4 linked regions of the Homo sapiens genome follow. The protein of the gene in region 1 purifies or fractionates together with the protein of each later gene. This does not show direct contact. Each region holds a gene or a part of one and is shown in the gene's direction. Other genes may lie near its edges.

Region 1 (3,500 bases):
ACAAATGATGGTTGTGTCTGTACTGAACATGTACAAATTTTTTTTCCTTGTCATTATTTCCTAAACAATATAACAACTATTTACATAGCATGTACATTTATTAGGTATTTTAACTAATCTAGAGATGATTTAAAGTATATGGGAGATGTGCTTAGGTTATATGCAGATAACTATTTTATATAAGGGACTCCAGCATCCTTGGATTTTGGTATCTGAGGGATTCATGGAACCAGTCCCCCACAGATACTGACGAAAGACTGTAATTTTGGATTGACTGAGAAAAAGAAAAAAGCAAACTCCAGTGATCACAAATCTTTCTAGAAAAATGTTTTTGAAGGAGCATTTCTTTTTTCAGGATACTATGGAATTCATAAGAAGTTTTCAGTCAGAAGCACCATTAAAGAGAGGCATTGTTTCAGCTCAAGATGCTTCACTTCAGGAAAGAGTGTTAGCTCAGGTAAATACATGGATCCTGAAGGCTTTTAAGACATGGACATATTATATTTCTCCTTTTTTATTTAATCACTGAAAATAGGTTTCAATGAAAACTATTTTAATCTTTTTCTATAAATAAGTGTACATGGTATATAGTATTCCTGAACTCTAACCTCATCTTTTAAATGTATACAATATTTTCTTCTCTTGTGCCTAGTTGCGAGCTGCCTTGTACGGTATTCATGACATATTCTTTGTAATGGATGCAGCTGAAAGAATGTCTATTCTACATCATGATCGAGAAGTTCGCAAAGAGAAAATGCTCAGGCAAATGGTATGTTATATGATTTCTAATGAATAGAGTTCTTCTGGGTTTAGGGTAATTGATACTAAATGTCAGTTTTGGTTGACTTCAGCACCCTTCTTCTGATAATTCTTAAGCACAAGTAATTCCTGGAATTACTAGCAGCATTTAAATCTGTAGACAGATTTAAAAGAATTACATCATTTAAGAATTACATATTGTTTTCTTATTGGATTTTAGAGTTGAAGCTTTGAATGTTTTGCTCAGATGGCTTATACAATCTATCAGCTGCTCCTGATTGAATTTCCTTGAATTCAATTATAATGTGGGTTTTGCTTTTTTTGAAATCTGAGTTAGAAAACAGGCTCCAAGTTAATTTGAAGTATATCAGAGTATGTGATTTGAATCAGTTATCTTAGTGTGATTGGCAAAGGAAAAGCAAGCAAAATTTACATAATTCTAATTATTTAATTCTTAGAATTAGACTGCTTCAAAAATACAAAACAAGATGATTTAACTAAATTAAAAATGTTAGTAGAGAGAAGCTTTTCCAGGCAATGTGGGATTATAATACATTATAATATAGTGGTATTAATTGGTTCCAGTAGAGTTTGACGTTACTTTTGTATATTAAAGGATAAAATGAAAAGTCCACGAGTGGCTCTTTCAGCTGCAACACAGAAGTCTCTTGATAGGAAGAAATACATGAAGTAAGTTTTTTGTATCATGTCATGTTAGTTATCAAACCAATTAATTTTAGTCATCTGTTGGTCTATTTGCATATTTAAATTTAGAAATAAAGAGTTAATTTTTCTGCAGTTGAGCTGATAGAAATCCCCTTTATATAAAGAAATTTATTAAAATCAGGTGCTAAAATCTCATTTCATCTTAGATGAATTTATTTACTAAATTTGACAACATTCAACTCATATAACTGATAGCTGGTTAATCTTAAAAACAGTTAATCTTTATATTCAGTGCCTAAATATATTCCTTTTCTGATGTCCTAAAGGTTTCTTGGGAATAAAGACTTAATGGGAAAAATATCTTAATAACTTTTTTAAAAAATTCTTCTTTCTTGAATGCAGTCTTTAATATGCTTAGTACAGGTCTTCCAGTAGTACACCAGCTTCTAAATGATGATTTGTTTCTGTCATCCTGTATTACATTTGTAAGCATGTTTTCTTCCCTTCTCTAAATACATTATGTCCTTATTTTTATATTGTGTTAGAGCTGCTGAAATGGGAATGCCAAATAAGAAATTTCTGGTTAAACAAAATCCTTCTGAAACAAGGTGAGAAAAATCACTTAGTCTTAATGAGAGGCTTTTTGTTTTTTATAGAAAAAAAAAATTGGCTGGGCACGGTGGCTCACGCCTGTAATCCCAGAACTTTGGGAGGCCAAGACGGATGGATCACCTGAGGTCGGGAGTTTGAGACCAGCCTGACCAACATGGAAAACCCCATCTCTACTAAAAATACAAAATTAGCTGGGTGTGGTGGCACATGCCTGTAATCCCAGCTACTCAAGAGGCTGAGGCAGGAGAATCGCTTGAACCCGGGAGGCAGAGGTTGCAGTGAGCCAAGATTGCTCCATTGCACTCCAGCCTGGGCAACAAGAGTGAAACTCTATCTCAAAAAAAAAAAAAAAAAAAGTTAAAAAATTAAAATTTAAATCCCAAACTTCATTTTTGTTGACTTTGTTCTACTTGACATCAGTAGAGCACTTCTTGCTGAATTGGGTCGGGGGTCGTCCTCAGGCTCAAGATTCATACCAATACCTGGCCATATACCTAGTCACATGTCAGACCAGATGTGCCCGGACCTTTTGTAGGACATGCTATCTGTGGTAGAAATTTTGAGCGTGGTATGTCTTGAGTTCAGTTAGACAGTCCAGAGGATCTTTGATACTTATTTAAAAACCTTAGAAAGCTAATTTAAGCTGGGCTGGGAGCAGTGGCTCATGCTTGTTATCCTAGCAGTCTGGGAGGGTGAGGTGGGTGGATCACGAGGTCAGGAGTTCAAGACCAGCCTGGCCAAGATGGTGAAATCCTGTCTCTATTAAAAATACAAAAATAAAAGATACAAAAAGCCGGGTATGATGGCGCGTGCCTGCTCAGCTACTCAGGAGGCTGAGGCAGGAGAATTGTTTGAACCTGGGAGGCGGAGGTTGCAGTGAGCCGAGACTGCACCACTGTACTCCATCCTGGGCGACAGAGCAAGGGTCCGTCTCAAAAAAAAGCTAACTTAAGCTGGGCACAGTGGCATGCTCCTATGGTCCCAGGTACTCGGGAGGCTGAGGCAGGAGGATAGCTTAAGCCCAGAAATTCAAACCAGTATGGGTAACATAGTAAGACCCATCTCAAAAAAATAAATAAATAAAAAATAAAGCTAAAAAGCGAACTTTAATATTTCTGACCTGTTTTTTACTCCTGTAAAATGAGAGTGATACTTTCTTCTCTCACTGGTTTGAAGGGAAAAGTTAGCTTTTGTAAAGCATATGTATAAGAAAATTATCTAAAAGCACAAGGGTTAGTCTATATGTTGGACATTTCTTTGCTGATAAAAACCTAAGGTTTGGACTCTTAGTGAGCAAAATACAAGTATCATATTAATATGCTTTAGTCGATTTGCTCTGATTTGTGGTAATATATAGGCCATATTATTGCATAGTTGACCTTTACCTTACAGTCATCATCTTTCATCCGTTGAAAGAAAATGGGAAAAAATGGAATTTAACCTATTAAATTAATTTTTCATTT
Region 2 (3,500 bases), on another chromosome or scaffold:
GGAAATTAAAAATACAGGACCTTTGGGAATGAAGGTGGATATTTGGGAATCATAATTTGTTAACTGAAGCTAATAAGATGAGAGCATTCAGAGAGAAAAGAACGGAAAGATTGAATATCAGTTTCCCTTCTTTAAAAAAATTGTGGATATGTGATCTAGCTTCTTGAGCATCACAGTGACTGATTGGCTCGTGGTAATTGATCGCTATGCTGACAATCTTATCTCCACCTATGTCATTCAATTTTCTAAGAGGCAAAATCCTTAATCAGGAGGAGAGTTTAGCTCTAGCTAAATTTCCCTTGTCCAGCATGCTCCTGCTCCCCCAACTTGTGGAAACAGCTAAAGGATTGGACTAGGAGCAGAAGTTTGGAATGGTTAAAATGTAGCAACATGTGTTTCCTGAAACAAAATTCCACTATAATAAAAAAAGCATTTGAATGCTCCCTTGTAATTCTGTTGGAGCTTGTTGCCTTTTTTATGACACAACCATAATCAGTGATAGACAGTAGCATAAAGAAGCAAGAGCAAAGCAATTAAGTAATAATAGCACTACAAAAATGTGTGCTGTAGCTTACCAAACACGACATTTATGAATTATTAGATAGGAGATAAGGTGATGTTATTGGATTGTTTTAAATTTAGTTCTTTGAAATAGGATAGTGACTAATATTAGTTTGTGTGCTGATTTTATAACTTTATATGGGCCTTTATATCAGGAAACAACGTAACCTACATAATTGACTAATACCAGAGCAAAAAAAAGAAAAAAAATTCTAGTTTTTTTAAAGGACGATTTTGCAGAATTTTAATAATAATTTTGTTTCAGAATTTTCAAAATTCTTTCCAAACTGTCGATTTAAACTCAAGCCATTCTTACATACTCCTTGGAACCAGGAAAGGAATAGCTTGAATTTGTGTGGCCAGATGTTATTTTTTTTTTTTTTTTTTTTTTTTTTGAGGCAGAGTGTTGCTCTGTCACCCAGGCTAGAGTGCAGTGGCGTGATCTTGGCTTGCTGAAACCTCCGTCTCCAGGGTTCAAGCTATTCTTCTGCCTCAGCCTCCCGAGTAGCTGGAATTATAGGCACCCGCCACGATGCCTGGCTAATTTTTGTGTTTTTAGTAGAGACCGGGTTTCACCATATTGGCCAGGCTGATATTGAACTCCTGAACTCAAGTGATCCACCCGTCTCGGCCAGATGTATTCTTTCAGCTTTCCTTCTGCTCCCCAACCCTAATACATACCTGAGAAGAATATTCATCTGTTCGGATACTCAACATGCCATGTTTTCCTCCTGCCGAAGGACATTACCTAAACGTTTTATTTTTAAACATTTTGTCCTTGCTTTAAGACTTTGTGTCATTTGTGAAAATGCAATGCTCTTGGGAAGGGTTTCTGTGCTTTTCAGTATTTAGTGTAAAGGAGAGGTTACAATGAGGAGGATAAAAGTCCTAGAGAGAGAATTAGGGTGCAGAAGACCTTGTAGTTTAGGGTTGGCTTAATCTACTGTAAACATGTAAACCATGTTTTTAGTATTAGTGTATGACAGGACACAAGTGTTTGCCTAGTTATAGAGATTATTTTAGTTAAATCTAGTGTGCTTCTGCTATAAGCATTTTTAAAATTCAGTTACTCAAGGGTACAAATATAGCATTTAATGTGTATTTGTGAAACTTGCTTTAGTAAATTAAGGGAAATGCCTAATGACTCACACAGAATTATAGAGCTGAAAAGGGATTTTGAGAGATAATTTAATCCAGTCTTCATTTACAAATGAAACAGAGGCTCAGAGTTGAGAAATGTCTTTTGGGAGTGTTCCTAATTATTAATTGATAGTATTGTTGAGTTCTCTTAAATTTTCTTGTGAGTTCACATTTATGAGTTAATAGTTGAAATTAAGTAATTGGAATAACATAATGTATTTTATTTATAGTTAAAGTAGTTTTAGTTGAAGCCTACATCAGAATTCTTCAGTGTTTCGTTGTAATGCAGAGGCATACTGTATGGCACACATGAGAAACTAATTTTATGTTTCCCAATAATAATGTTTTAAACCAAGTTTAGAGATATTTTAAAAGTTGTGCTCTGTAGGTGCCAGGACAGATGACTTTCATAAAATGAATGCTCTCTTTAAAAAAATTTTTCTTTATGGTTTCAGAGATTTATATCTTTGGATTTTAATTATTAAAGATGTATTAAATGGGATGTGTACCAATCAGCCATTTCAAGGCCCTTTGCACGTTTTGTTTTGGATGTTATTACCTTTTCAGAAGCCCTGTGAGGTAGTTACTGTTATAAATAATCCCATTTCAAAGATAAGTAGTAGATTTAGAATTTTAGTCCTGGGGTAGTCTCATTCCAGAGCTCACTGCTCTACTGTTCCCTAATTGAGATACATCCAAGGAGAGTGGTCAAATTATTAGTCCAGTTTTTAAGAGTGTCCATTTTATACATACTTAAACCCAAAGCTACTAATTTTTAGTACAAATATGAAACATATAGGGAGGTCTTAGTGACCAGTTCACTGATTTGATTAACCTATAACACATTAAAGTGAAATATGGATTTGCTTACTGCTTATTTGAGTATTGCAAGGACTGATAATTGCTGATAAATTCAGGGCAGCTCAAGGAAATGATGCTAATTACATATATCTTCAAAAGGAAGGCATACATATTTCTGAAGCTGCAATTTGAAAATGAATAATCTCCACTGATGCATTACTTACTGTAATTATTTTACTCACTATGTATTATGTGCTCATTAATGACTGCACAAAACACATATGAAAGTAAAAAAATAGAAGAACTTAAAGTAATCAAGTATTTATTTCAGTCTCAGTTCTGTGCTGAACACTATGGTATATACAAGAAAACTAAGGCATGATTTTATACTTGAGGTTTACAGTTTAGTTTCAAAGATGAAACTAATATGTGTGAAATAATTATGGATGGCTTACTAGCATTTAATTGTTTGGGCAGATTAATAAGGGCTGTAGTATTTGGAGGATGATTTATGAAGAAGCTGAACTTGATCAGATCCTTGGAAAAGCATAAATAGGATGTGATAGATATATGGGAAGAAGGACTTCAAATCTAGGATGTGAGCTAAATTGAAAGCTCCATAGTGGCAGGGATTATTTCTTTTTTGTGCATTCTCTATTCAAGTGATAGCGTCCTGCATGATATTTAATAATGCCCAGCAAATATTTTACTGATAAAGGGAAGTCATGAAGGAGTTTCAAAGTATTTGGGGGATGGGTCAGTTAGGAAATTGCCCTGCCTGGAATTCAGATATTTCTGTTGGGAGCTGTGGGACAGCAAGTAGTTTATTTACTCATCTTGCCTTATTTCAGAAGGATTTTAAATGGGGCAGAATGGTTTGCGATTTATTTGATAGACAGTAGTGGATTGTGTAGATCATTAAGCAAAAGAGTGATAAAAGGTAAATTTATGCACTATTAGTCTGGGTCTAGTATTTTACTTTATACAGCTTTATTGAG
Region 3 (2,870 bases), on another chromosome or scaffold:
AGCCTCTGGGGCCTTCTGTGGGGGGTGGACTCTGCCACGGTGACAGTCCCACACACATTCTCACCACCCATGCCCGCCGCGAGGCTACAGTCCAGGCTGACCGTGCCCGTCACCTGGTTTCACACCCTGGTGGGCTGGGATGTCACCGAGCAGCCAGGCAGGCTTTGGCAGTGGATGCCTCTGGGCCCAGTAGCATGCTCCCGACGTAGCCCTGTGGGGCCCAGGGCTGGACAGATGAAACTCTGGGAGTTTTCAGAGGCTTCCAGGAGGCTGCCAGCTTAGGCTCTGAATGCCTGGGCTTGGGGGCCCAGGCCCCGCCCTCAGCAACACGCAAGTCCAACTTTCCCATCCCATCTGGTAGCAGAAGGTGGCCTCAGGTTGTCATGGGCTGTGGGTCTCTGAGGGAGGGGACCGTGGGCTGTGCATCATGACGATCTCTGGTACGCCTATGCCCACACTGGGTCCTGACAACAGGACGTAGCGCACCCCTGGACAGGGGTCTGGAGAGGGGGAAGGCCCCTTGCTCCCCTGTGGCTCAGAGCCTGGAGCCCCCCAGGACCCCCTGAGGCTGGCCCTGGCCCCGCGGGCCGGCTCCGGGTGGCAACCCCCAGGCAGCGCATGTCCCCCCAGGAGGCGTGGCTGCTGAACCGGGAACAGGAGCTGAGGGAAGAAATCCGGAAAGGCCGGGACAAGGAGATTGAGCTGGTCATTCACCGGCTGGAGGCCGACATGGCGCTGGCCAAGGAGGAGAGTGAGAAGGCTGCCGAGAGCCGGTAAGGACCCGCCATGGCTGGGTCACCAGCTGGGGAGGCCCACGAGCTGAGGCGCAAGGACCCGTGTGTGACTGGGCTGGAGTGACCCTGCCCTCCCCCCACCTCCAGCATCAAGCGCTTACGGGACAAGTACGAGGCCGAGCTCTCCGAGCTGGAGCAGTCGGAGCGGAAGCTTCAGGAGCGGTGCTCGGAGCTGAAGGGCCAGCTTGGGGAGGCCGAGGGCGAGAATCTGCGTCTGCAGGGCCTTGTGCGGCAGAAGGAGCGGGCGCTGGAGGATGCGCAGGCGGTGAGTGGGCGGGTGTCAGGTGGGCAGTGGGCACCCACAGGCCCCTCCTGCATGCACGCAGCCAGTCGCTGGCAGCCGGCTCACTGCCTTCTGTGCCCACCCAGGTGAACGAGCAGCTTTCTAGCGAGCGCAGCAACCTGGCCCAGGTGATCCGCCAGGAGTTCGAGGACCGGCTGGCAGCCTCTGAGGAGGAGACGCGGCAGGCCAAGGCCGAGCTGGCCACGCTGCAGGCCCGCCAGCAGCTGGAGCTGGAGGAGGTGCACCGGAGGTGGGCGGCGGGGGCTGCAGGGCTGGAGACGGAGGCGGGGCAGGGGAGCGGGCAGGACCTCTGCAGCTCCAAGCCCCAGGAGGCTGTGGCTGAGGAAGGCCAGGAGATGCAGAGACAGGGCCCTGTAGACAGAGGCTGGTGTGGGTTCCATGTTTGGGGCCCAGGAGACCTAGATCTGTTTTCCTCCCTGGTGCTTAGTCTAGGGTGTCGGCCATCCCTGTTGGGGCACCCGAGTGGGTCGGGTCTGGGCCTGGCGAGTTCTCCAGGGAGTCAGCTCCCGGGGCCCTGGGCTGGGTGGACAGGCGCTGAAAGAGCTGGGGCACTGTAAGGTTCCCAGCGAGCTCCCTCCACGGGGGTCCTGCATCCTTCCTGTGCCATCTGCTGCCACAGGCTGAGAGGTGGGTGTGGGCGAGGTGTCCCACCCCATCTGGGTACCAGGCCTCCCCAGGTGTGGCCAGGGTCATACTCCAGTGGCCTGTGTTGGGTCCTGACTCACAGCAGGTGGGTTGCCTGGACAGCTGTCTGGGCCAGCCACAGGAGTCGTGGTCAGCAGGGCTGGGACCAGGCTGACCAGGCGGCTGCCCCGTGCACCCTGTGCACTGCAGGCCACTCTGGGGACATGGGGCGGGGGCCACACTGAAGCCTACCATGTACTACCCACAGGGTGAAGACAGCCCTCGCGAGGAAGGAGGAGGCCGTGAGCAGCCTCCGGACACAACATGAGGTGAGTCCCTGTGGCCAGCCCTGCTGGACCTCGGGGCTGGGAGCAGGCCTGACCCTGTGGGTGTGCTGCAGGCTGCGGTGAAGCGGGCCGACCACCTGGAGGAGCTGCTGGAGCAGCACAGGAGGCCCACGCCAAGTACCAAGTGACCAGGGATGCCGGGAACACTGTCGAAGAACGGAAGGCAGAGGACAGAGGCTGGACGTGGGCCCAGAGGCCCACAGGGACGCCCACCTGCCCCCCACAGAGGCTGGTGGTTGAGATGCCCACGGCTAAGCACCTGTGGCTGCATTTTAACAGTAAAGGAGGCCGTTGTTTTCAGCGCCTTGAGTGACTGCCTTGTCTTCTCTCCTGGGCTAGAGGCTGCCCAAGACCCCCAGAGCAGCCAGGCGTGGGTTTGGCTCTCTTCCTCCCACTCCCCTCCGCAGCCTGAGCAGGCTGACCAGGAAATCACGAAGCTTGGCCATCAGCCCCCCAGCTAGCAGCCCTCAACACTCAGCCAGCAGCCCCCAGCACTCAGCCAGCAGCCCCCCTGCACTCAGCCCTCAGCTCCCCAGCATTCAACCCAACCCCCAAGTTCCTGTTCCCTGCCTTGCCCTGGACCCTGGAAGTCCCAAGCACAGGGAATTCCCTACCCCGTTCCTGGCCAGGCGCAGGAGGAACTCAGCAGAACTCACCCCCTGGGAGGAGCTCCGAGGGCCCCGCCGTGGCCCTGCAGGTGCTGGAAGCCCATGGCTGCCAGCGTGCTCCTATGGCTGGAGAGACTCCAGAGGGACAGGAAGCCCTACCCTCCCCGCTGTCAAGGTGTGACAGTCTGGAGCT
Region 4 (3,500 bases), on another chromosome or scaffold:
AAGTAAATTGCATATAGCAGTAAACAGATTTCATCAAATTTAATGCAATACCATAAACCTTAAATAACACCATGGGTCCCATATGACGTGCCACTGGTGATGCTGCAGGTGCTCCCAAGAAGCAGAGAAAAAAGACATTACAAGAAAAAGTTGATTTGTTTGATATGTACTGTAGATAGAGGTCTGCAGTTGGAGGTTGCCCCCCAACCCCATTTCAGACAGAGGATTCATCTTGTAATCAAATTATGTAAACTTATAGTATTGATAAATGCAGTGCAGTAGTGTAAATGTATTTTCCCTTTCCTACGACTTTCTTAATATTTTCTTAGCTTTATTGTAAGAATATAGTACGTAATATATTAACATACAACATATCTGTCAGTTGTTTATGTTATTGGTACGGCTTTCGGTCAGTAGTAGGCTATTAGTAGTTAAGTTTTTGGTGAATCAAAGTTAGGTGTGGGTTTTCGACTGCACAGGGGGTTGGTGCCCCAACCCAAGTATTGTTCAAGGGTCAGCTGTACGTCCAGATTTTGCAGGGTTCAATTTTACTGCAAAATGTCTTTTAGTTAATACGTAGGAGATTTAGATAAAAGGTCATAAAGCAAGGAATGTCTTTTGATTAATATTTTCTCTTTCTAATGGGTTTCAATTTTGTGATTCCCACAGATTTTGCTTAGATGACATTCTCATTAAGGTAAAAATGGATATAGCTCATTTGTATTGAATAGCAAAAATGTTAGTTTTATAACCCAGTCTTGTTACGAATGAAGCACCTCAGCACATAGAAAACACTAGAGTTGAAAAGCTGAAAGTCTTTTCAGAAACTTCTTACTTTTAGAAATAACGGGGTGAGATTTTTTAATATTGAGATTTAGAACTGATTTTTACAGGTGAGGATGTGGATAGACACAAAGCGGTAAGCAACTTGCTCAGGGTTACACAATCCAGTTGTGGTAGAATCTGACCTAAAATCCAAAATCGTTACCTAAAATTTTACTGTGCATTAATGAGGAGTTATACTAGTAACACAAATTTAATGTTAGGTATTTAATAAAGATTTAAAATGAATCAAGACAGGCCAGGCTTTGTTTCTGACAAGTTATGTTTTTTCTATTTGGATTTCCTAGAGTAGTTCAACTAGGTGCAGAGGAATGGGCCTGTGACCATGGCCTTTAGATCAGACCTGGTGTGGGCTCACCCTGATGACAGGTGACTAAATCAGAGTTGAGGTCACTGCTGACACCAGGTTTCTAGAGAGAGTTAGAGGTAGAGATACCACCATTGGGGAAAAATGGCTACTAAGTTTACTTTCTCCTCTTATCAGCAAGAGGATGTCACCTCCTGATGCTGACTTAGTTCAGAACCAAGGAGAGTCTGATTTTTGTAAAATACTCCTTCAAAGCAGGTTTGGCAGAGTTTCTTAAAAGGGCCAGGCAGTAAATATTTTAAGCTCTGAAGGCCAAGTGGTCTCTTGTTACAACTCATCAACTCTGCCCTTGAATGGAAGGAGCCTTAGGCTTTGTGTAATCAAATAGTGTGGCTTTGTACCAATAAGACTGTACAAAAACCAGGTAGCCAATGGGCCCCTGCCTTAAAGCAATTCTGATAGCGTAAGCATGTGCAGGATAGTGAAGTTAGCCCCAGTTATAAGGGTATAATAAGGATTGGACTATATTCTCAACTTTAGTAAGATCCCACCTATTTTAAGAGTCACTGGTGGATGTATGTTATGGCAGCTTTGCACACCATTAAGTAACCAGGGGTTTAAGGATCTCATCCTGCTCTGTGTAGTTACTTCTGTATCAAAAATTGACAGCTCTTGTAACCAATCTATAACTTATCTCAACTCACCCTTGCAACCTTGATATTACTTGGTGATAAGTAGTCTCCATGGAAAACCAAAAGTGGCACCCGTGGGAATATAACTGAACATTTATTGCTTTTTACATATGCTGAAATACGGAGATATTGAATAATGACCAAGATGACACTTGTGTTTTAGAATAATTCTTCTGATTAGAGGTGGGGCAGGAAGGGCAGGGGAGGAGTTAGGAAGTAGAATTGAAAAGTATCCTGGGTTTATTGATTGTGGGACTAGGAGAAGAGGCATTTAGGATGACTCCTTAATTTCTTTTTCTTTTTTTTTTTTTTTTTTGAGTCTTGCTCTGTCACCCAGGCTGGAGTGCAGTGGCACAATCTCAACTCACTGCAACCTCTGCCTCCCAGGTTCAAGCGATTCTCCTGCCTCAGCCTCCCAAGTAGCTGGGATTACAGGCGCATGCCACCATGCCTGGCTAATTTTTTGTATTTTTAGTAGAGACAGGGTTTCACTGTGTTAGCCAGGATGTTCTTGATCTCGAACTCCTGACCTGAAGTGATCTGCCCACCTCAGCCTCTCAAAGTGCTGGGATTACAGGCGTGAGCCACCATGCCCGGCTGATGACTCCTTTAATTTCTAACTTGGGTGCATTTGTTAATCTTAGCCATGAAGGAAGGAGGGCAGGTTTTTGTGGGGCATGTGCTAAGTTCACTTTGGATATGAGTTTTGAGTATGGTGAGAGGGAAGTTGTGGGGCATCCAGAGCCCGGGAGTAAACACTAGGAAGAAAGCTCTGTGAGGCTGTTCAACTGTTGAAGCTCTGCTGTTTGCCTAACTTGATGTGGCCATTTTAGTTCCTTTAATGTCATACTCTGCTGTTAGGAATGTAAATTTATGGAGTCTTTTTGCACATCATTTTATATCAAGAGCCTTAAAAATACTAACTCCTGGCCAGGTGTAGGGGCTCACGCCTATAATCCCAATATTTTTGGAGACCAAGGTTGGCAGATCACTTCAGGTCAGGAGTTCAAGATCAGCCTGACCAACATGGTGAAACCCCATCTCTACTAAAAATATAAAAATTAGCCGGGCATGGTGGTGTGCACCTGTAGTCCCAGCTACTTGGGAGACTGAACCAGAAGAAGCGCTTGAAGCTGGGAGGCAGAGCTGGCAGTGAGCTGAGATCATGCCACTGTACTCCAGCCTAGGTGACAGAGTGAGACTCCATCTCCAAAAAAAAAAAAAAAAAAAAAAAAAAAGTATTCCTTCTCACCTGGTAATTCTGGTTTTGAGAGTTTATGCTAATTTTTTTCCTAAATTATAGACAGATTTTGAACACAAAATGTTCATCACAAAAACAAGTGAGTGTCTAAATGCCCAGTAGTTGGGAAATAGCTAAGTCACTGATGGTTACCTAAGATGGAATGATGAACATCCACTTTGTACCCCACAAATATAGACAATTATAATTTGTCAGTATTCAGCTTAAAAAAAGTAAGATGCTAGATGACTTTTTTTTTTCTTCTCTTTTTTGGAGACAGGGTTTTTGCTCTGTTACGCAGCCTGTAGTGCAGTGACACAATCATAGCTCGCTGCCCCCTTGACTTTCTGGGCTAAAGCAATTCTCCTACCTCAGCCTCCCAAGTAGGTGAGACTACAGGCATGCACCACCACGCCTG

Evidence for each region.
Region 2: the proteins of CCP110 (region 1) and ACTR3 purify together in Homo sapiens (affinity purification with mass spectrometry, with the first as the bait; one large-scale study listed by BioGRID). This does not show direct contact.
Region 3: the proteins of CCP110 (region 1) and CEP131 purify together in Homo sapiens (co-immunoprecipitation; one large-scale study listed by IntAct). This does not show direct contact.
Region 4: the proteins of CCP110 (region 1) and CARNMT1 purify together in Homo sapiens (co-immunoprecipitation; one large-scale study listed by IntAct). This does not show direct contact.

Annotation. Positions count from the first base shown.
Region 1 is NC_000016.10:19,544,442-19,547,941, forward strand, and holds part of CCP110 (centriolar coiled-coil protein of 110 kDa), read left to right. Parts: intron 1-355; coding exon 356-457; intron 458-652; coding exon 653-769; intron 770-1,375; coding exon 1,376-1,449; intron 1,450-1,970; coding exon 1,971-2,033; intron 2,034-3,500.
Region 2 is NC_000002.12:113,896,589-113,900,088, forward strand, and holds part of ACTR3 (actin-related protein 3), read left to right. Parts: intron 1-3,500. UniProt on the Homo sapiens protein: ATP-binding component of the Arp2/3 complex, a multiprotein complex that mediates actin polymerization upon stimulation by nucleation-promoting factor (NPF).
Region 3 is NC_000017.11:81,189,096-81,191,965, reverse strand, and holds the end of CEP131 (centrosomal protein of 131 kDa), read left to right. Parts: intron 1-615; coding exon of another isoform or gene 616-630; coding exon 631-773; intron 774-881; coding exon 882-1,059; intron 1,060-1,163; coding exon 1,164-1,327; intron 1,328-1,990; coding exon 1,991-2,051; coding exon of another isoform or gene 2,052-2,122; coding exon 2,123-2,197; 3' UTR 2,198-2,370; downstream 2,371-2,870. UniProt on the Homo sapiens protein: Component of centriolar satellites contributing to the building of a complex and dynamic network required to regulate cilia/flagellum formation.
Region 4 is NC_000009.12:75,021,794-75,025,293, reverse strand, and holds part of CARNMT1 (carnosine N-methyltransferase), read left to right. Parts: intron 1-3,500.